Regions from separate parts of the Homo sapiens genome. Here region 1 is linked to region 2. Evidence: fine-mapped expression QTL. Tissue or cell type: B cells. Region 2 holds a variant in brackets; the other region holds the start of a gene. All regions are shown on one strand. Distances are between the middles of the regions. Region 1 holds the start of CNN3 (calponin 3). Region 2 overlaps ALG14 (ALG14 UDP-N-acetylglucosaminyltransferase subunit).

Evidence for each region. PIP is the estimated chance that this variant, and not a neighbour inherited with it, causes the effect.
Region 1: it holds the start of CNN3, and the variant in region 2 is fine-mapped to the expression of CNN3 in B cells (Fairfax 2012, PIP 0.95).

What each region holds. Positions count from the first base shown.
Region 1 is chr1:94,922,556-94,932,598 of GRCh38, reverse strand. It overlaps CNN3 (calponin 3), which reads left to right and starts at 5,489. Exons shown (of 7, transcript NM_001839.5): 1 at 5,489-5,761. The coding sequence starts at 5,705. It overlaps CNN3-DT (CNN3 divergent transcript), which reads right to left and starts at 6,239. Exons shown (of 3, transcript NR_168377.1): 1 at 5,859-6,239; 2 at 614-727. RefSeq lists silencers at 4,972-5,851, 5,952-6,381.
Region 2 is chr1:94,971,212-94,981,254 of GRCh38, reverse strand. ALG14 (ALG14 UDP-N-acetylglucosaminyltransferase subunit) reads left to right here. Exons shown (of 4, transcript NM_144988.4): 4 at 1-6,850. Among named protein-coding and RNA genes, the nearest start is that of CNN3, 49 kb to the right of the region's middle. The variant G/A (reference allele first, on the strand shown) is at 5,519.

The DNA of each region.
Region 1 (10,043 bases), 49 kb after region 2:
CTGGTCTCGAAGTCCTGGCCTCATGTGATCCGCTTGCCTCCCAAAGAGCTGGGATTACAGGTGTGAGCCACTGCACCAGGCCAGGGGCATTTTTATAATAAATTCCATAAAGCATCCCCCCTTGCCCCCCTCAAAAAAGGGTGACTTCAGATTCTTCAGGAGTCTGGGAAGTTGGTTTTTGAGCAATCATTCTAAACCAGGCCTGGTTTCAAATCCCAACTCTGCTCTCTGTTAACTGTTTGATATTGACCGAGTTGTGTACCATACTAAACCTTAGTTTTTGATTATAAAGTAGGAATAGATAATATTGATTATTATAGGGTTATTGCAAGTGATGCCTATAAGTGGGGTGACTGTGATTTAGCATCTCAACGGGACACTTTTGAGGGTGAAATGAGCACACTATGAAGGGGCTTTATCAGGACTGCCTGAAACAAAAAAATATTAATAGTGCCCTTTCACTCTCAAAAATGCCCCTATTTGGGTGATGAATTTTGATCTCACTGCCTGTTATGTGCCTCTAATAGTGCTTAGCACATAGCAGGTGCTTAAAAGTCCCTTAGCCTCTGAGCCTTTTAGGGTCCCTTCTGCCTTTACCATAACTGATCCATACCTTTGTGGTTCTCTTTAATTCTCTGGCATTGTGGACTTGTTACAGGAACAGGGTCCCGATCCAACCCCAAGAGAGGGCTCTTGGATTTCACACAAGAAAGAATTCAGGGCGAGTCTGTAAAGTGAAAGCAAGTTTATTAGGAGGAATAAAAAAATGGCTACTCCAGACTGAGCAGCCCCTTGGGCTGCCGGTTGCCCTTATTTATAGTTATTTCTTGATGATACGCTAAACAAGGGGTGGCTTATTCATGCCTCCTTTTTTTAGATCATATAGGGCAACTTCCTGATGTTGCCATGGCATTTGCAAACTGTCATGGCGCTGGTGGGAGTGTAGCAGTGAGGACGACCAGAGGTCATTCTTGCCGCCATTTTGGTTTTGGTGGGTTTTGGCTGGCTTCTTTACTGAAACCTGTTTTATCAGCAAAGTCTTTATGACCTGTACCTTGTGCTGACCTCCTAACTCATTCTGTGACTTAGAATGCCTTAACCGTCTGGGAATGCAGCCTAGCAGGTCTCAGCCTTATTTTACCTAGCCCCTATTCAAGATGGAGTTGCTTTGGTTCACATGCCTCTGACAGATTTACAGGGTGAATTCTTCAAAACACTTTATGTTATTATTTTCGTGGCAAGATGTATGGCAATATGACCCACAAATTTGCCTCTGTGAAAAAATACTTTTCTACAACTCTCCAACAACTGCTTTTAATTAATAAAAATTTGGAAAGGTTGAGTTGACCTCCTTAACAGCATTTATTTCAATTGAAAGTGTTCTGCATATTACAGAAACTTCCAGGGAAAGTACTTAAGATTGCTGGGCCACACCCTGGTAGTTAGTTTGCAATGTGACATTTTACTTAAACTGAGCATTTACTGACACATTCTACTGTTAGAACTTGGTCAGGATTTTTGAAATGTATCCTAACAGTGACAAGTTAAATACCATAATAAGAAAACACACAATCCAATAAAAATAGGCAAAAGATCTGAACAAACATTTCATGAAAAAGATACACAGATGGCAAATAAATACATGAAAAGAAGCCCAACATCATTACGTATTAAGGGAATTCAAATTAAAACCATAATGAGATACCATACTCCACATCTATAAGAATGACTAAATTTAAAAAAACTGACCTACCAACTGTTGGTGAGGAAGCAGAGGAACTGGAACTCTCATACGCACTGGTGGGAATGTAAAATGGTACAATCATTTTGGAAAAAGTTTGCAGTTTCTTAAAAAGTGAAATATACATCTTTCACTTGATCCAGCCATTCCATTTATAGGTATTTATGGGAGAGAAATTAAAGCATATGTCCATACAAAGACTTGTACATGAATGTTCATAGCAGCTTTATTTGCAATAGCCAAAATCTAGAAACAACCAAAATGTTCATCAATAAGGGAATGGGTAAAATCACTGGTGTATCCCTACAGTTGAATACTACTCAGTAATAAAAGGAATGAACTAATGATACATGCTACAACGTCAGTGAATCTCGTAATAATTTTGCTGAGTGAAAGAAGCCAGATAAAACAGAATATACAATGTGTGATTCCAATTATATAAAATTCTAGGAAATACAAATTAATGTATAGTTACATAAAGCATATCAGGGGTTGCCTGGTGGGGTGGAGAGGTAAGGAAGACTGGGAGGGAGGGGCTACATGAGGAAACTTTTGGGTATGATGAATATGTCCTTTGTCTGTTGTGGTGATGGGTTTTTAAATAGGTGTATCTATGTGTATATGTGTGTATCAAACTGAACACTTTAAATATACTTTGTTATATCAATATACTTCAATAAAGCTGTTAAAATTGTCCCAAATTTTAAGTTTTTCTCATTTGATTCTATAGTGCCACAGTAGGTAGTCAGACACAAGCAGAGCAGGAGAGGGCTCCCCGCTCCCACCAGGAATGTCACGCAACCATCAGGTGGTCAGGCAGTTGTTAAACTGTCTCTCTAAAATAATAACTGGTCACAGCCGGCACCAGGGAAAGGCAGTCTCCCAATGGCTAGAAAATACCTACAACTGGTGATCAGCAGCTTCTGGATAGGATCTTAGGAGTTGGCTGAGTGGGCTCACAGGTGTGAACTAAGAGGCAAAATGGTGGCATTTAACTGGTACTCATATATGACCTTCTTCTAGGAACACTTGACTAGTAAGCGAAGAATGCCTCAAGTGAGCATGCGTACAACCTCAGTTAACACACTGAGCATGTGGTCCCTCCCAAGTGCTGGCAGGCCACTGCACATGCAGACAGCCCACCTCAAGGGAAGAATCAGGGGAAAAGGGACACAACCCCCTGGAAGCATGCCAATGTATAAAACCCCAAGTCAAAGGTCAAGCAGCGCACTTGAATCTCTCAAGTTGCCCGCCTGGCCCTCTTCCAAGTGTACATTACTTCGTTTCATTCTTGCTCTAACTTTCACTCCTGCTCTAAAACGTGCCTTGGCCTCTCCCTCTGCCTTATGCCTCTCGGTAGAATTCTTTCTTTGGAGGAGGCAAGAATTGAGGTTGCTGCAGACCCATACAGATTTGCTGCTGCTAACACACTTTGGTGCATGAGACTCAGATACATTCCCTAGTGCTAACAACAGCATTACGTATTCTTACACAATGAGTTAAATTAGAAACGAAGGAAGTCTCTGGAGTACTGATGGAATCCAAGAGGACCAACAATATTTAAATAGTAAGTTCCAGTGGCAATGTCAGAAAGAACTTCAAGTACCTTAGGGAGGATAACAGTTGATCAAACAAACAAATGTAGAAAATTTCATGTTTACTTTAAAGTCACGTAAGTGTACAATGGCATTAAGTACATTTACAATGTTGTGTGACCACTGTCACTACCCATCTTCAAAACTTTTTCATCATCCAAAACTGAAATCCTGCACTCCTTAAAAAATAACTCCCCCTAAACAATAAAATTCATGGTTTTCAAGACAAAATACAATTCTTGAACATTTTACAATAAGCTAAAGTAGATTAAAATGACTTTGAGCATACAACAGGAGCAGTCAGGCTTAGATTGCTGCAAAAAGGCTTTGCAGGCTGGACACCATGATTTGTACCTCAAATCTGGCTGCTATTTCCCACACTCCTAGGTCCCAAAGAAATGTGGGTGAGGTCCTGCGGTTGACACACCGTCACTGTCATACTACTGGAAAAACAGCCCAAACTGTTAGCCTCAATGATATTGGGTCAATTGTGTCATCTTCGTGTGGGAAGAATGCCCTAATTATCATTACTCCCTTTGGACAAAATTAGCAAGTCATTTATAAATCATTTCACTTTCCTCCCTATTTGCCTCCTCCCGCTTCCTTCAGGTTCCATCCCTCAAAGTCATTGGGAAAAGCCTTGCAAACTGGATAGCAGTTTTGTGCATTTCCGGTTCAAGCTGCCTTACTCACTTTTTTTTTTTAATTTAAAAAAACTTTGGATTTTTTGTAGAGACAGGATCTTGCTATGTTGCCCAGGATGTTCCTGAACTCCAGGCCTCAAGCAATCCTCCCACCTCGGTCTCCCAAAGTGCTAGGATTACAGGCATGAGCCACCACACCTGGTTCACCTTACTCACTTCTATTCCAGGACGGTTCAACTATGATGTTTTGGCTCCTCTTCTCAAGCAGCTTTCCACACCTGGTTCCATGATCTCTTCTGGCACAGTAGCTGGTATTTGGCAAACATAGGTTTCATCCTGGGATCTCAGGGATTGAAATCTGTCCTAGGTGTGCACCAGAAAGTGGTGGCAAGAGATGAAGCTTCGGAGGAGGCTGACCTCGGCCAGGATTCTTAAGTCTCAAAGTTTCAGCTTTCTCACCCCTCAACGGACATGAAATCTACCTATTTGTAACTCCAGGGAAGTAAATGAGATAATGTTTGGAAGATATCTAGTCTACCAGCTGCTCAGGCGGGGGGCGAAGGTTCTGTTCCCTGTCCCTTCTCTATCAAATGGCTTTAAAATCAGAAGAAAGTATTACGGGTAGGAAATGGGACTGCGAAAAAAATGGAGGCTGATTCTGGCCTAAAGGATACTTATCTCTATACAAAGGGCTTCTGATTCAAAGAGGCCCCGGGATTCAAAAACACAAGCAGAGCTACACCACGTGGGGTTTGGGACGAGCTGAATTCCGGATAAAGATGCCTGTAAAGAGGAGTTGATGCGAATCCAGAAAAGCACTTGAAATGCCCAGGCTTTGCATGGCACATTCCCCAGGATTTTTTCGCACCGCATTTAGAGGTTTAGACGGAGTGAGCTCGAATCAGGCCAAAAGCCTTAGGTTACTCCTGGGCGGCAGCGGGGCAGAGGTCAGATCAACAGGTGTGGAAGGCTGCGAGGTGAGGGAAGAAGCAGGTGTCGGTGGAGGCCCCAGTTCCTCCGGCCCAGAGGCTCCAACGCTGCTATTGGTGTTCCAGCAGCGGGCGGAGGGGTCCTGCCCGGCATCTGGGCGCGCTGGGCCCAGAGCCCGGGAGGAGGCAGACGGAGGCGGCGGGTCAGCGGCGGGCCAGCCCCGGTGGGCTTCCGCTCCCCTCCGCCGGCCCGGTCCGGCCCGCCGCGGAGGATGCCTGGAGGTTGACGTGAATGGCCTGTGGCTGGGAAGCCCCCAGGCGCCCTGCCTAGCCCGGGGGCGGGGCCGCCTAGCCGCCGGCCCCGGTGGCGTGAGGGCTGGGGCGGGGGCCGGGGACCTCGCGGGGAGGGAGCGGGAGGGAAAGCGGCCCCCGCGGCCCTTCAATTGGCCGCACCGCCCCTCGGCGCAGAGGCGGGAGGAGGCGGCCCTCCATTGGTCGGGCCCGGCGGCCAATCCTCGAAGGCCCAGGCGGAGGCGGGGGCGGCCTGTGGGGAACCGAGGTGCGGGCGGCGAGCGAGGCAGCCGGGTGCTTCGCAGCGGAGCTCGAGGCTCTGTAGCACCCAGTTGGACCCAGTCGCCCAGGCACCGCCCGCGCCCCGCGGCCGTCTCCTGCGCCTCCCAGAGGAGGGAGTTCGAGCATCCCCCGCGGCGGCCACTCCTCGGGGCCAGGAGCGGGGAAGCGAAGTGCGAGAGACCCCGGACCCCAGCGCTGTCTCTTCCCGCCGCCCGAACCACCATGACCCACTTCAACAAGGGCCCTTCCTATGGGCTCTCGGCCGAAGTCAAGAACAAGGTACGCCTGGCTCGGGCGGGCGCGGGGGCCCCCGGGGCACCCTTGGGCTGGCCTGGCGCTGGGCCGTGCTTCGTTTGCTCTTCGCGCTGTGGCTCACCGTTTTCCTGGAGAGGGGCCGTCGAGGCGGCGCGAGCGTCTCTGCCTGTCCCGGTCGCGTCCAGTCCCCGGGCTTGCGGGGCCGGCTCCCGGGCACCCGCCTGGCTTTGTTCCCGCGCCGTGGGACAGGACTAGTGGCTGGCGGTGGGTTCCCGGGCGCCTGGAGTCCCGCGGCGCCAGCCTTTCCGGCTGCGGGGGTCTCGGGGGCCGTTTGGTGACTGCAGAACGCGCCCTCCGGGAAGGGGGCGCTCCTGCGTGGCCACTCGCCCTTAGGCGGAGCCCGTCTGCGCGGCCAGGGACCCGGCGAGCCGCTGCCGCAGCCCCCGCCATCTGCCCGGGCCCCGGGTGCTGGCGGACTCCGCGCCTCCCCACGGGGAGAGAGACCGCCTAATGTCCCGCCGACCCCAGGGGCCCCGAGGAACGGAAGCCGGTCCGGGACCCATCACAGTCTCCGATCTCGGTGCCTGGGAGGCATTTGGAGGCAGATTGCTGCTGCTGCTTCTGCTGTTGCTTTTGCGGGAAATGGAGACAAAGCCTGAGCGCGCCACTGTGCGAGTGATATCTGCTTAGGCTTGAGACTTTTTATGAAACACTGAGAAGTTTGAAGTACATTAGACTTTCACGACATAAAGGATTATTTTTGTGGGTTGCTTTTGTTTGGGGCTTGTTTGCTGAGGCGGCTTATAGTTTGGAGCGATTGGGATTTGGTGACGCTCAGCTTTGCCACTGAGCCCAAGAATGCGTTAGGTTTATCTTTAGGACTTTTGGCCTGGGAAAGAGATGAGAGGCGTCCCCCTCCCCAAATCCTCTCCTTCCTTCCTCCCTCCCTGCATTCCAAGCCCATGACATCAGGGGTTTCTGGGGGGAGAGACCAGCCAATCGGCGCGGAACTGTGCACAGAACGCTCATTGTCTCCTTTCTGCTGTTCTGGCCAAAGCGCCACAAAGGAGGGCTGCCTGTGGTTTAATTCCCATTAACCTCCCGGGAGCCCAAGCATGTCAGGATTGCCACCGCACCGTCCGACCGCTGGTGGAAGGCACTGGCATTGTCAGAGCTGGAACATCCCGGGGCTGCGGGGGTAGGCGGTGTGAAGCGAATTATGTAAAGAGGTAATGAAGCGCACCGTTGTCAAACCCCAAGGGAGAGTTGTGGCTCTTGTCTCCCGCTGTTAGTCTGCACATCATACTGTCTTTGAAGCAAGGAGTTGATTTTAGTCTATGTATCTAAAGTTGAAATGTTTAGGTCCTTTACCTTTTCAAACGTGTTGCCCGTATTAGACAACAGTTTGCTAACAATTTTTTTAGAGAGCAGAAAGGTGAATGGTTTGTGTATGATTGAGTGCAAACCTCACCAACTGAAAAGTTTGTAACAAGTTACTGTTTCCTTCCTTCCAGGATTTACAAACCGAACTTTAGGAAACTTCAGAGGAATGGGCATGTCCAAAATGTTGGATGTGATGTGATACTTTGGCCTGGTTGTGCACATTCATTGTAATTCCCCCCAGTGATTCTTGGCTGGCAGCAGTTGAGTCTCTACTACCTTTTGCATTGTAAATGAGGTACTGATAACGTTGGCAGCCCTTCAAGTGACTTACTTTTCTTGGATGTTAATAATATCCATGCTAATTTCTTTTTTGCTGACTAATGTAGCAGCTTTTGCCCTTTTCCTGCTTAATACTGAGCAGATCCAAGGAAATGCATACACAGGCTAGATCACTGTAATTATTGTAAATATTTAAAAACGGTAAAACCTCAGTTTTTAGAACCTTTGGAAAGTTAGTTATGAAAGCTGTGGATTTATCCCTTTAAGCACCAAACCCATTTTTTAATAACCCGTTTCATTTTTGTAGTCCTTTCAGACAGTATTCTTTCATAGGAAGTCTTTTGATCTTAACAGCAGAGCAGTCCTGTAAGGTGAGGAGGATTGCTGGGATTATCCAACATCATTTACAGATCAGTACACTGAAGCTCAGAAAGATTTGCTCAAGGTCACAGAAGTTGGACTATTCTAAGAATTTTAACTCTAAAAGCGATGTCTTAGTTGAGTGAAGTACTTAGGGATGTTCTACACAAACTCTGCTGTCTGTCGCCTTCCCCCCATTTTTTTTTCTTTCTTTTTTGAGACGGAGTCTTGCTCTGTCGCCCAGGCTGGAGTGCAGTGGCGCGATCTCAGCTCACTGCAACCTTCGCCTCCCAGGTTCAAGTGATTCTCCTGCCTCAGCGCCCCGAGTAGCTGGGATTACAGGTGCCTGCCACCATGCCCGGCTAATGTTTGTATTATTTAGTAGAGACAGGGTTTTGCCATGTTGGCCAGGCTGGTCTCCAACTCCTGACCTCAGGTGATTCCCCCTGCCTTGGCCTTCCAAAATGCTGGGATTACAGGCGTGAGCCATGGCGCCCAGCCCTTCCTCCCATTTTTGCTACCCACCTGTCACTTCTTGACATTGTGATTATTTATGTCATACTGTTTCTGATCTGTTCTGGGCCTGGGAATCAAATAGCCATGTTTGCTAGGCCTTTGTATGAGATGCTGCATTTTGACTGAGGCCTCAGGACTCCCGGGTGAAAGGTGGGTATATACAAAAGTGACATTGCGTGGTTTGACACCTTTTGATTCCTTCCTGCTTTTTCTTTATTGCATAATTGATACATTGCTTGAATGCTAGATTCCCCCCATCTACCCCCACATCTCATTTAACAAAGAAGTATAGAAACATCCTGGGGAGACAGTGTGGAGTGGACCTGGGAGTCTAGCATATGTGAGTTCTAGTCCCCGTTCTGCCACTTCCTGCCTTCTGTGATGCTGGGCTAGCTACTTGACATCTCTCTCCTAGCTTCTGTTCTGTAGAATGGGGGAAAACAATAGTTGCCACCCCCAGACACCATGTTGTGGAGATGTGTCTGGCTTATACTCAACTCAGTGACTGTATTGTAGCTATTAGCTCTTAGTAACAGAAAATTAGTTTTTAGTATTATATTTCTAAGATTTGTATGTCCCTGCCTCTTTAAGTATTTGGTTTGTATTAATACCTTTTGGTCTTGTTATATAATATTCTAGCTGTAAAAGCATTTCATCAATGAATTGAGGAAGTCTCTGATTTTAAATACTTTAATCAGTAAAATTTCAGAGAAAAATCTTTAAGACATTTGATTGGTAAGATGATAATACATGGCAGAACACACAAGCTTACTTTTTTTAATAGGCAAGAAGATGTGTGAAAACAGCCTTAAAAAAAAAAAGCCTAAGAATTCCAGTCTTTCAGCCTGGAATATGAACAAAGTTTCTTTAATAACAAAGAAAAAAATGACACCAAATGATCAATAACTTAGAGTTTACAAAAACTATCAGAGAGTAAAAGGGCCAGGGAAAATGCAGACACTGGTAGGGATGGTTCGGTGGAGGATGGAAACACTCATAAAATAATGGGCCCTACAGGTATTCTACAGGTTGAACCAGGCCCTTGAATGCATCTTGGGAACCAAAATGAAAAGTGAAACAACTCTGTGCCTCGTAAACCATGAAAAAACATAACAGGTACTCAAGGGAAGCACAGTATTTCCTGGCAAAATGTTGGAGTTGGGGGTAGTTTCCCGTAAAGTTGGATGGGAAGAGAGGACGCAGTGAAGCATGTCTTCATCAGGTTTAGAGCAAATGCCGCAGGAACCTTTCTTACAGGTCTCAGGGAAAGTGGAAAAAATAAATTGACAAATGGGGAGCTGAAATAATCTTACCTCGGTATGTTTTTTTGGGAGGAAGCTAACTGGAATATTAAGAAGCATGGAATTGGAATGCACATTCTTCCAGTCTTCTGCCCCCTTGGAATGTCTGATTTGAGCAAAGCAGCTTCCCACGGGATCTTCTTGATTACAAAATGGTATTTCTCAACACCTAAAAACCTTCTTGAAAGGCTTATTACCAAAATCTTTGGTTGTTGAAGTTAAACAATCATACAGTAATAATTAGATAGGACCAGTGTCCGCGAAGTCCTCCTAGCTTGTTTGCCGGGTGCGCTTTAGACGCACAGCTGCTCTGAGGGTACTTCTGATCAGAGTAACCCAGGGTGACCCAGCTATAAATTACACTCGAGGGTGGTTTGCCTTGTCTTGCTGGTAGAGCACCAGAATCTTGGTAAAAATGTGTTGGTGGGCTTAGCTTTTTTCTTTTTAAACTTGGAAGTTCAGAAATT
Region 2 (10,043 bases):
TCACTGGTTGCTTCCCTGGAGTATCAGAGCGTATTAGTATCATACAACCAGGGGCTGAGGTGAAATAAGCCTTGACTGTTCTAGAAAGAAAGTGATTTTTTCAGGGACAACAGCATCTGCATTTTATTGCTGTTTAAGGCTTTCTCTGCTCTGTACTTTGTTCCCTGAGTGGCACTAGGTAAATGAATGGTAAGGGAAAGTGAACTGCGTTTAGTGAATGCCTCTCTGTGCTGTGGGGCAGCTTCCCTGGGCCCCCACAGGTAATCCTGCTGCAGAGGCTTCTGTCAGGTCAGAGCTTAACAAAGATCAGACCAGAGAGAATTGTAGAAAAGATGCTATAATTTTTTCCAGAAACATATGTCCCAGATGTTTTGCAGAGCCTTAACTTAAGACAGTGGTTAGCCTGGAATGTCAGAGAAAGAATGTGTATGTGTTATATCACCAAAAGTTTAGAAATGTTATATCTTTCATAGGTTCAGGCTGCTGTGTACTCATTCAGAGCCAGGCTGAGACATGTGTTATTGCATCTTCCTGATCATTCAGATTACTCTGGTAAACAAGTGCATGCTCTGCTGTGTGTTACTGTTATGGCTAATTTGAGTCCTCAAGGTCCCATTAGCAGAGGGGGCTGGTGGCACAATTTCCCTGCTGTGCATTTCTGTGACATTCAGAAAGATAGTGCGCCAGTCCCAACTCAAACTGAAGAAGATGAGTAGCTAGCTTGTCCCTTCCAGTTTCTCTTAGAACACTCTGAATGCAACTTTTACTGTAGGAGACTGTTCATGAAAAAATTAATTGAATCAGTCTTCAAATGAGAGGCAGGGAAACCACACATCCTGCCCACACCTACTTCCCTGGAAGATTTCTATCTACAGTCCAGCTATCCTAAAAGGTCTCAGTAGCTTGCCAGGTCAGAATGTCTAACTGTTTCAAAAAGGATGCCCAAAAATCATGACAGGAAACTTTAGCCTGGAACGAAGAGTGCTATGAAACCGTGTCAACAAGAGGAGTGGTGACAATTGTGAGTTGAATAGCAAGATGTCCTTGCTAGGAAGGAGATGACCCAAGCTTCCCCTTATAAAAGCAACTTGGAACACATCATTCTACCTTTCAAAGATACATGGTAAGTTAAAATTGAGAAACGTACCCCTTTACTATACAGTTCCTTGGGTTGAATGAGTGCTTTTTTTTTTTTCTGAAAAGCCCCATCCCCCAAAAGGCATTTGATAGCAATGTATTAAGCACCTTTTACCAACAATAAGAACATCATTGTAAGTGTTAAAGAAAATTGTCCTTCTCCCTACAGGTCAGCGTTTGAGCCTCACGGGGTTTCTTCCCATGACTTCAGCCCTGGCGCACAATGAGCAGACACCCAAATCTTGTCCGCCTTCAACATTCTTTTGTTAGGGCCCATCCCTCTAGCACTCTAAAAACAAATCATCTACAACTGTGTTCCTGCTGCCCACTCATTTTAAACATGAATTTGACATAGCTCCTCCTTTTCGCACTGGAGTAGTTAACTAATGCTAGCCCACTAGCTTCTATCATGTCCCTCAAGCAACAAACTTTGGGATCATTTTTGCTTTTTCACTCTTTCTTTACCCAATTATAATTGGTTGCCTTTTTTGTTTCATTATCCCCAGAATTTTCTCGTCTTCCTCTTCTCTCCTTGAAATTACTTTTACTGTTCCTCTCCTTTGTCATCACCTATTGATTCTGCCTTTGACTTAGTTCATATCTACCCTTTCCTTTTCAGTCCCATAGTTACAACCTAAGCCAGCTCTTCAACAAAAATTTCTTGCTTGATGAGCAAGTTTTATTGAGGAACTGAGGAAACACCTGTGGAAGGAACAAATGAATGATTTTGTTAATTACTTATGTTTGTCTTCAGAGACTTCCCCTCATGCTAGTTCTGTATACTTGTTTCACTTTTTTCTTTCTTTTTTTTTTTTTTTTTTTTTTTTCGAGACAGTCTCGCTCCATCGCCCAGGCTGGAGTGCAGTGGTGCAATCTCACCTTACTGGCTCACTGTAACCTCTGCCTCCTGGCTTCAAGCGATTCTTGTGCCTCAGCCTCCCGAGTAGCTGGGATTACAGGCATGCACCACCACACCTGGCTAATTTTTGTATTTTTAGTAGAGACAGGGTTTTACCATGTTGGCCAGGCTGATCTTGAACTCCCAACCTCAGGTGATCCACCCATCTTGGCCTCCCAAAGTGCTGGAATTACAGGTGTAAGCCACACGTCCGGCCCTTGTTCCACTTTTTATAATATTTACACCACAGAGAGGTTAAGTAATTTATTAAAGATTATAGAACTAGAAAGTGACAAAGCTCAGATTTGAACCAAGGCATTCTAGCTCCAGCCAGGCTTACCTTAATAGCTACGTTAGGTGTTTTTTTTTTTTTTTAAAGAAAAAAGAAAAAATGTCCTCAAAAGGAAATAAATGGGGTAACAGGGTACTATGACGGAGTAGAAGGTAGTTGGTGTTCTAGATAGGGAAATCAGGAAAGGCCTTTCTAAGAAAGTGGTATTTTACCTGAGTTCCAAAGGATAATGCCTTAAATATTTGTCCTCCTTCTACTTCACTCCCAACTTAGATTTTGCCCCACCCACAAAGTCTTTGTCTTCATTTAGCTTGAGCAAATTCTCTAAATAACTCTGTGACATAGCCACCCATACCAAAGGTTAGTGCTGAGTTATATACCATCGAATTGCAGTCCTTGTTCTTAGAAACACCTGTGGAAGGAATAATGAATGCTATTGCTGATTATTTATGTTTGTCTTCAGGGACTGTACCTCATTCTAGTTTTGTATCCTTGTTCCACTTTTGATAGTATTTACACCACAGCTCTGTACAAAACATAGGCACTAATTAAATACATAAATTATTTGGCCAGGCATGGTGGCTCACGCCTGTAATCCCAGCACTTTGGGAGGCCAAGGTGGGTGTATCACAAGGTCAGGAGTTCAAGACCAGCCTGGCCAAGATGGTGAAACCCCATCTCTACTAAAAATACAAAAAATTTGCCGGCGTGGTGGCGGGCGCCTGTAATTCCAGCTACTTGGGAGGCTGAGGCAAATAATTGCTTGAACCAGGGAGGTGGAGGTTGCAGTGAACTGAGATGGCACCACTGCACTCCAGCCTGGGGGACAGAGCGAGACTCCACCTCAAAAAAAAAAAAAGAAAAAAATTATAGCTTCAGACTTGTCTAGGCTCACTTCAGTTATATTTTATCTAGACCAGTGCTTCACAAACGTTTTGATCTCAGGACCTCATTATACTAAAAAATTATTGAAAACTGGCTGGGCACAGTGTTTCACACTTGTAATCCCAGCACTTTGGGAGGCCGAGGTGGATGGATCACCTGAGCCCAGGAGTTTGAGATCAGCCTGGGCAACACAGTAAAACCCCATCTCTACAAAAAAAATACAAAAATTAGCCAGGCATGGTGATGCACACCTATAGTTCCAGCTACTTGGGAGGCTGAGGTGGTAGGATCACTTGAGCCTGGGAGGTGGAGGTTGCAGTGAGCCGAGATCATGGCACTGCACTCCAGCCTGGGTGACAGAGTGAGACCCTGCCTCAGAAAAAAAAAAAATATATCCCAATGAGCTTTTGTTTGTGTGAGCTATATTTGTCAATATTTACCATTGTAGAAACTAGACAAAAATTTTAAACGCAAGAATATAAAAGGACATATTCCACTGGCTGTCAGAACAATATCATCACACATCTTGTAGCATCTGGAAAACTATACCATCATAAGAATGACAAGGAAAAGGCAAATAACATCTTAATATTACTATGAAAATAGTTTTGACCTCATAAACCCCTAAAAACGTCTTGAAGACTCCCCAGGACCTTGGACCACATTTTAAGAACTGCTGCTTTACATAATGTCACATCAGCGAATTCATCTCTTCTTTTTTTAAAATAAGAGGCAGGGTTTCACTATGTTGTCCAGACTGGTCTCAAACTCCTGGTCTCAAGGAATCCTCCTATCTTGGCCTTCCAAAGTGCTGGAATCACAGGCATGCGGCACTGCGCCCGGCCTATCTCCTCTTTAGTCAGTCAGTGATCTGTGTATTAGTTTTATCGCTGTGTAAAAAATTGCCACACATATATTGGCTTAAAACAATACATTATCTCTGTAGGTTAGAAATCCAGGCAAAGAAGGTTTTCTGCTCAAGATCTCAAAAGGCTGAAATCAAGATGATGGCCAAGGCTGAGTTCTGATCTGCAACTCTGAATCCTTTTCAGATACCTTCAGATGGTTGTTGGCAGAATTCAGTTCCTTGCAGTTGTAGGATTTGTGGTGGCCTGCTTCCTATCTTTTAAGGACTCACATGACTGAGTCAGTGTAATCTCCCTTTTGATTAATTCAAGGTCAACTGATTAGGATCATAATTACGTCCCTTTTGCCATGTTAATGTAACATAATCAGAGGAATGACATGTCATGATATTCACAGATCCCACCCATACTAACGGATAGTAGATTATCCAGGGCATGTAAATCAGGGGGTGGAATATTAGGGGACATCTTTTTTTTTTTTCTTTAAGACGGAGTCTCACTCTGTCACCCAGGCTGGAGTGCTGTGGTGCAATCTCAACTCACTGCAACCTCTACCTCCCTGGTTCAAGCGATTCTCGTGCCTCAGCCGCCTGACTAGCTGGGATTTCAGGAGTGCACCACCAGCCCGGCTAACTTTTGTATTTTTAGCAGAGATGGGGTTTCACCATGTTGGCCGGGCTGGTCTCGAACTCCTGGGCTCAAGTGATCCGCCCACCTCGGCTTCCCAAAGTGCTGGAATTACAGGCGTCAGCCACCATGCCCGTTCTGGGGGCCATCTGAGACTTCTGCCAACCACAATCAGCTAGATGTTTTTTGTTTTGTTTTGAAAAAATAATAATAATAACCTTTCACTTGGGCCACCAAACTCCTACCTTAGTATCCAAGTTCTCTAATTTTTTTTTAATATGGGAAATCCACATCTCCCAAACTCTATCCCTTTTCTGGCAAGTTACTTGACCTTTCTGTAAAATAAGCATAATGTACCTGCGTTAGAGTTGTAGGGAGCACTAAACATTCAGATGATGTATGTACAGTGTTTAGCACAGAGCCTGCTAAATAGTAAGCCCTCAAGCCCTCAGTCACATTTGTCTCCATCAGTGGTAGCTCCCCTGGTGTGTTAAGGAGGCTCTTCTTTCTTTTTTTTTTTTTTTTTTTTTTTTGAGACAGAGTCTCGCTCTGTTGCCCAGGCTGAAGTGCAGTGGCGCGATCTCGGCTCACTGCAAGCTCCGCCTCCTGGGTTCACGCCATTGTCCTGCCTCAGCCTCCCGAGTAGCTGGGATTACAGGCGCCTGTCACCACGCCCGGCTAATTTTTTTTTTGTTTGTTTTTTTTGTATTTTTAGTAGAGACAGGGTTTCACTGTGTTAGCCAGGATGGTCTCCATCTCCTCACCTCGTGATCTGCCCGCCTCGGCCTCCCAAAGTGCTGGGATTACAGGCGT[G/A]AGCCACTGCGCCCGGCCAGGAGGCTCTTTTTAAACTAAGGGCAGCAACCCCCTAGGGTGGCTATAGTCCAAGAAAACCCAGAAAATACATGCTGCCAAGGATTTGGAGAAATTGGAGCCCTCCTACATTGCTGGTAGGAATGTAGAATGGTGCAGCAGCTGTGGAAAACAGTTCAGCAGTTTCACAAAAATCAAACATAGGGTTATCATATGACCCAGAAATTCTACCCATAGGTGTATACCCTGGAGAATTAAAAACATGTATTTACACAAAAACTTATATGTTCGCAGCAGCGTTATTCATAATAACCCGAAAGTAGAAACAACCCAAATGCTCTACTAATGAACAGATAAACAAAATGTGGTATATCCATATAGTGGAATATTACTCGATCACACAAAGGAATGAAGTACTAATACATGCTACAGTGTGGATGAACCTTGTAAACAGTAGGCTAAGTTACAGAAGCCAGCCACAAAAGACAACAAATGCATGATTCTATTCATATGAAATGTCCAGAGTAGGCAAGTCCATAGACAGAAAGTAGCTTAGTGGTTTCCAGGGGCAGTGAGAAGGGGAAATGGAGGGCAACTCCTAATGGGTATGAGGCTTCTTTTGGAGGTGATGAAAATGTTCTGGAATTCGACAGTGGTGATGGTTGTACATCTCTGTGAATATACTAAAAGCCACTGAATTGTATACTGGGTGAATTTTATGGTATCTGTAGACATTCCAATTGACAGTCACATCTTAGTATAGACTTTGAGTCATCTCACTGGAGGCACTAGACATGCAAGAGGAGAAGTCTCCAGATTATTCCAGCCCTGCCATTTGAGTCACTCCAGGCTTTCTGGTCTTCCCAGCTGAGGCTCAGACACCTTGGAAGAGAGAAAAGCTCTCCCTTCTGTGCCCTGTGATTTGCTGATCCACAGAGTTCATAGGCATGATTAAATGGTAGTAGTTTTCCACCACGAAGTTTTGGAATAATTTGTCACAAAGCAATAGGTAATTAGAAAAATAACCTTTCAGAAGGAGACAGTTTCTCCAAAGCTTGGGTACTTTCGCTTAATATTAAAAGAGGAAGAAATTTTTTGCCTGCCAGGCAAAAGGCAGAAGATGTATTTCTACACCATGGATAGGAAAATGATTTTTTTTCCTCCTTTCTCCTTGGCCTGCATGCAGCAGTGAAAAAGAAACCAATGGATTCTTTTAAATCTTTAACCATATGCAGATGAATAAGCACATGGTTGGACTTGATTCCTAATCTCTTTTCCTTTCCTGTATAACTGAGATTTTTTTCCACTCTAATAAACTTGAGCATTTAAACAGAAGTCATGTGTTACATATATGACGATTAGCAGCAAGAATGTAGAAAAGGAGATAGTGGCTGAGCATGAAGCTTTAATTAATACCCAAGCCATTCAACTGAAAATGAGAACAATGTTTCTGGCAAGGAGATGTAAAAAAAAAAATTCTGTCCAATTTGAAATCATTTTTTTCCTCTCTCAATCTTTTTAGGATAATGATTTAAAATTCAATGACTGTAAAGAGAACTTTTTTTTTTTTTTTTTTTGAGATGGAGTCTTGCTCTGTCACCCAGGCCGGAGTGCAGTGGCACGATCTCAGCTCACTGCAACCTCTTCCTCCTCCTGGGTTCAAGTGAATCTCCTGCCTCAGCCTCCTGAGTAGCTGGGATTACAGGTACCCGCCACTGCGCCCGGCTAATTTTTGTATTTTTAGTAGAGACGGGATTTCACCATCTTGGCCACGCTGGTCTCGAACTCCTGACTTCATGATCCACCCACCTCGGCCTCCCAAAGTGCTGGGATGACAGGCGTGAGCCACCGCACCCAGCCCAAGAGAACTTTTTTAAGTTTTCAGTTGAGCTCCAGTGACTGAAGTGCAGTAATCTTTGTATGACATCAAGAAGGCCCACCATCCCCATGTCTGGGTCCCCACTGGACTGCCAACCCCCAGAACGTACACACTCAGAGTAGGAAGGGAATACAGCCCAAGGAAAGCCAAGCAGCCGCAGGAGGAATGGACTCTGGGGACAGTCTCTTCCCGCCTCTCAGAAAAAGGGAAAAGAAGTTTCATTCTTCAAAGAAAAGGGAGAAAAACAAGACTTTTATGGAAATACCATATACAGAGTTGGCAGAAATTCAGCAAGGAATAAAAAGTATCCAAAATGTTCCCTTATTCAGTTCCAGTCTGGCAGACAAATTAAAAGAGGTTCAATTTTCAAACCGATTTGCCCTGAATTATCTGGACCTAAAACCATGCAAGGCATCTAAAAAGACTCGTGGTTTGGTCCATTGACAGCCCAGTTGAACAAGCGGAGTCTAAAGCAGCCAGATGGAAAAAGCTTAAAATGTTTTCATCAAAATCTTATAAAAAACAAAGTATTTGTGGATGAAATGATAAGAGGCCTGAGATTTGATTGAAAATCCATTGCCAGAGTGGGGCAGGAAGGAGAGTTTATAGATAAAACAGGATTAGCCATGCGTGTGGAAGCTAACTGGGCAGTGGGTACATGGAGATTCACAAATAAGCCCATTATATTCCCTCTATTTCATATACGTTTCAGCATTTCCATAATTAAAAGCTCTAGAAATATATATCATGTAAGAAATTTTCAGATGCTAAAAAGCCAAAGAATGTATTGATTATAGATAAATGAAACAAACTAGGTTTTTAAATGAGAACAAGAAAGGACACTTAAAAATTACTTTTATTTCATGCTTAACTCATGAAAAAAAAAAAAGTGGGCCGGGCACGGTGGCTCATGCCTGTAATCCCAGCACTTTGGGAGGCCGAGGTGGGTGGATCACGAGGTCAAGAGATCAAGACCATCCTGGCCAACAAGGTGAAACCCCGTCTCTACTAAAAATACAAAAATTAGATGGGTGTGGTGGCACGCGCCTGTAGTCTGAGCTACTCGGGAGGCTGAGACAGGAGAATCGCTTGAACCTGGGAGGCAGAGGTTGAAGTGAGCCGAGATTGTGCCACTGCACTCCAGACTGGCGACAGAGTATCAAATATTTTGAGACTCCATCTCAAACAAAAGAAGAGAAAAGGATCAGTCTGCAAATCTGAACCTGAAGAGGTTTCTCTGACTTGAAATAGTCTATGTTGGGCCTTTCAATACACTGTTATCGAGTTTGAAATGTCACCATAATCTTTATCCACCTAAGGACTGTGCTCCTCATTGTTTGGTAAATATTTGAGGTGTTCCAACATCAATTTGACAAGACCTTTACAGGAGACTTAAGGGCACTGACTCCTATTGAAGGATCCCTTTCTCCAAGGGCACACTCCCCGCTCGATGTCAGAAGTGCTGTGTGTGCACTGACTCATTTAATTCTCAGACCCAAGCAACTGAGGCCCACACTTTAAAGACACATATTTGCCACTTTCCTCCCTATGGGGTTGGAAGGGCCACACTTTTCTAGACCAAACTCTGGCTGCCCAGGCCCCAAAATTCCCTGCCTCAGTGGCCCGAGCCTGCTTCTAGGATTTGCCTGGGCCCCTTGCCCCATGGAATGCAAGTGAACTGTGCCCCTGGGCTGAGAGATGGCATGGGTGGTTTTCAGTGGGGAATGGTGTGGCAGGAGTTAGGACCTGCAAGCTGAGGTGTGGAGGGCAGGATGGAGCCAGATGGAAAGAGAAGGGAGGGGGGCTGTGGCAGAGGTTTTTGTGTACACTCTTGCCAGGGGTCCTGGAAATGTTAGGGGTGGACCTAATGAGTTAAGTATTATCATTACCACCTTTTCTGGAGAAAATAAAACTGAGAAAGCTTGAGTATCTGCTTAGGGTTGCACAGCTGGCTAGTGGCAGAGCCAGGGCTTAGCCTGTCATTCTTGTGATTCCATGACTCTTCCCTTTCATGCTCCACACAACAAAATCCACAGAATCTGCAGGTACCCGTGTCTCTCATGAGACACAGAGACAGTCCTGAAAAGCTCTTCCATCAGATAAGTTGCTTTTCTACTCCGTACTACATTATCGGTGCCAACTCAGAAGGTGGCAGACACAAGTGGTGGCAAAGCCTCATCCAGAAAAAATTACCATGGGAAGTTGAATCAACAGAAAAATATTTGATACAAGAGTATGACAGTTAATCCTAGGATTTCACTTTTTGTTCTGAACTTCTGACCTACAGCTGCTAGTCCAACCACGGAACATCTAAAAGATACTTTAATTAGATTTTAACCCTGTCGAGCGAGCATTTGGCCAATCAAATAAGTAGGTCTTTGTTTATTTCCTTTAAACTCTAAAGCCAGGAAATTACTTTTGATATGTTAAGACCCCTGCCTTCCCTCCAAGGACATCCTGAGACATAGAAATAAAATCTAGCCAAACATATTTTCAATTACTATTCATAAGGAAACACCCATCACATTATAGGTAATTTGAAAAAGCAAATTTATGGAAAAAACTGTTAAAATATTACAATATTTTTTAGAAGGCATAATTTGATGTACTTAAAACCAAGTAGTCACTTTTTGATATGTTTTGGATACT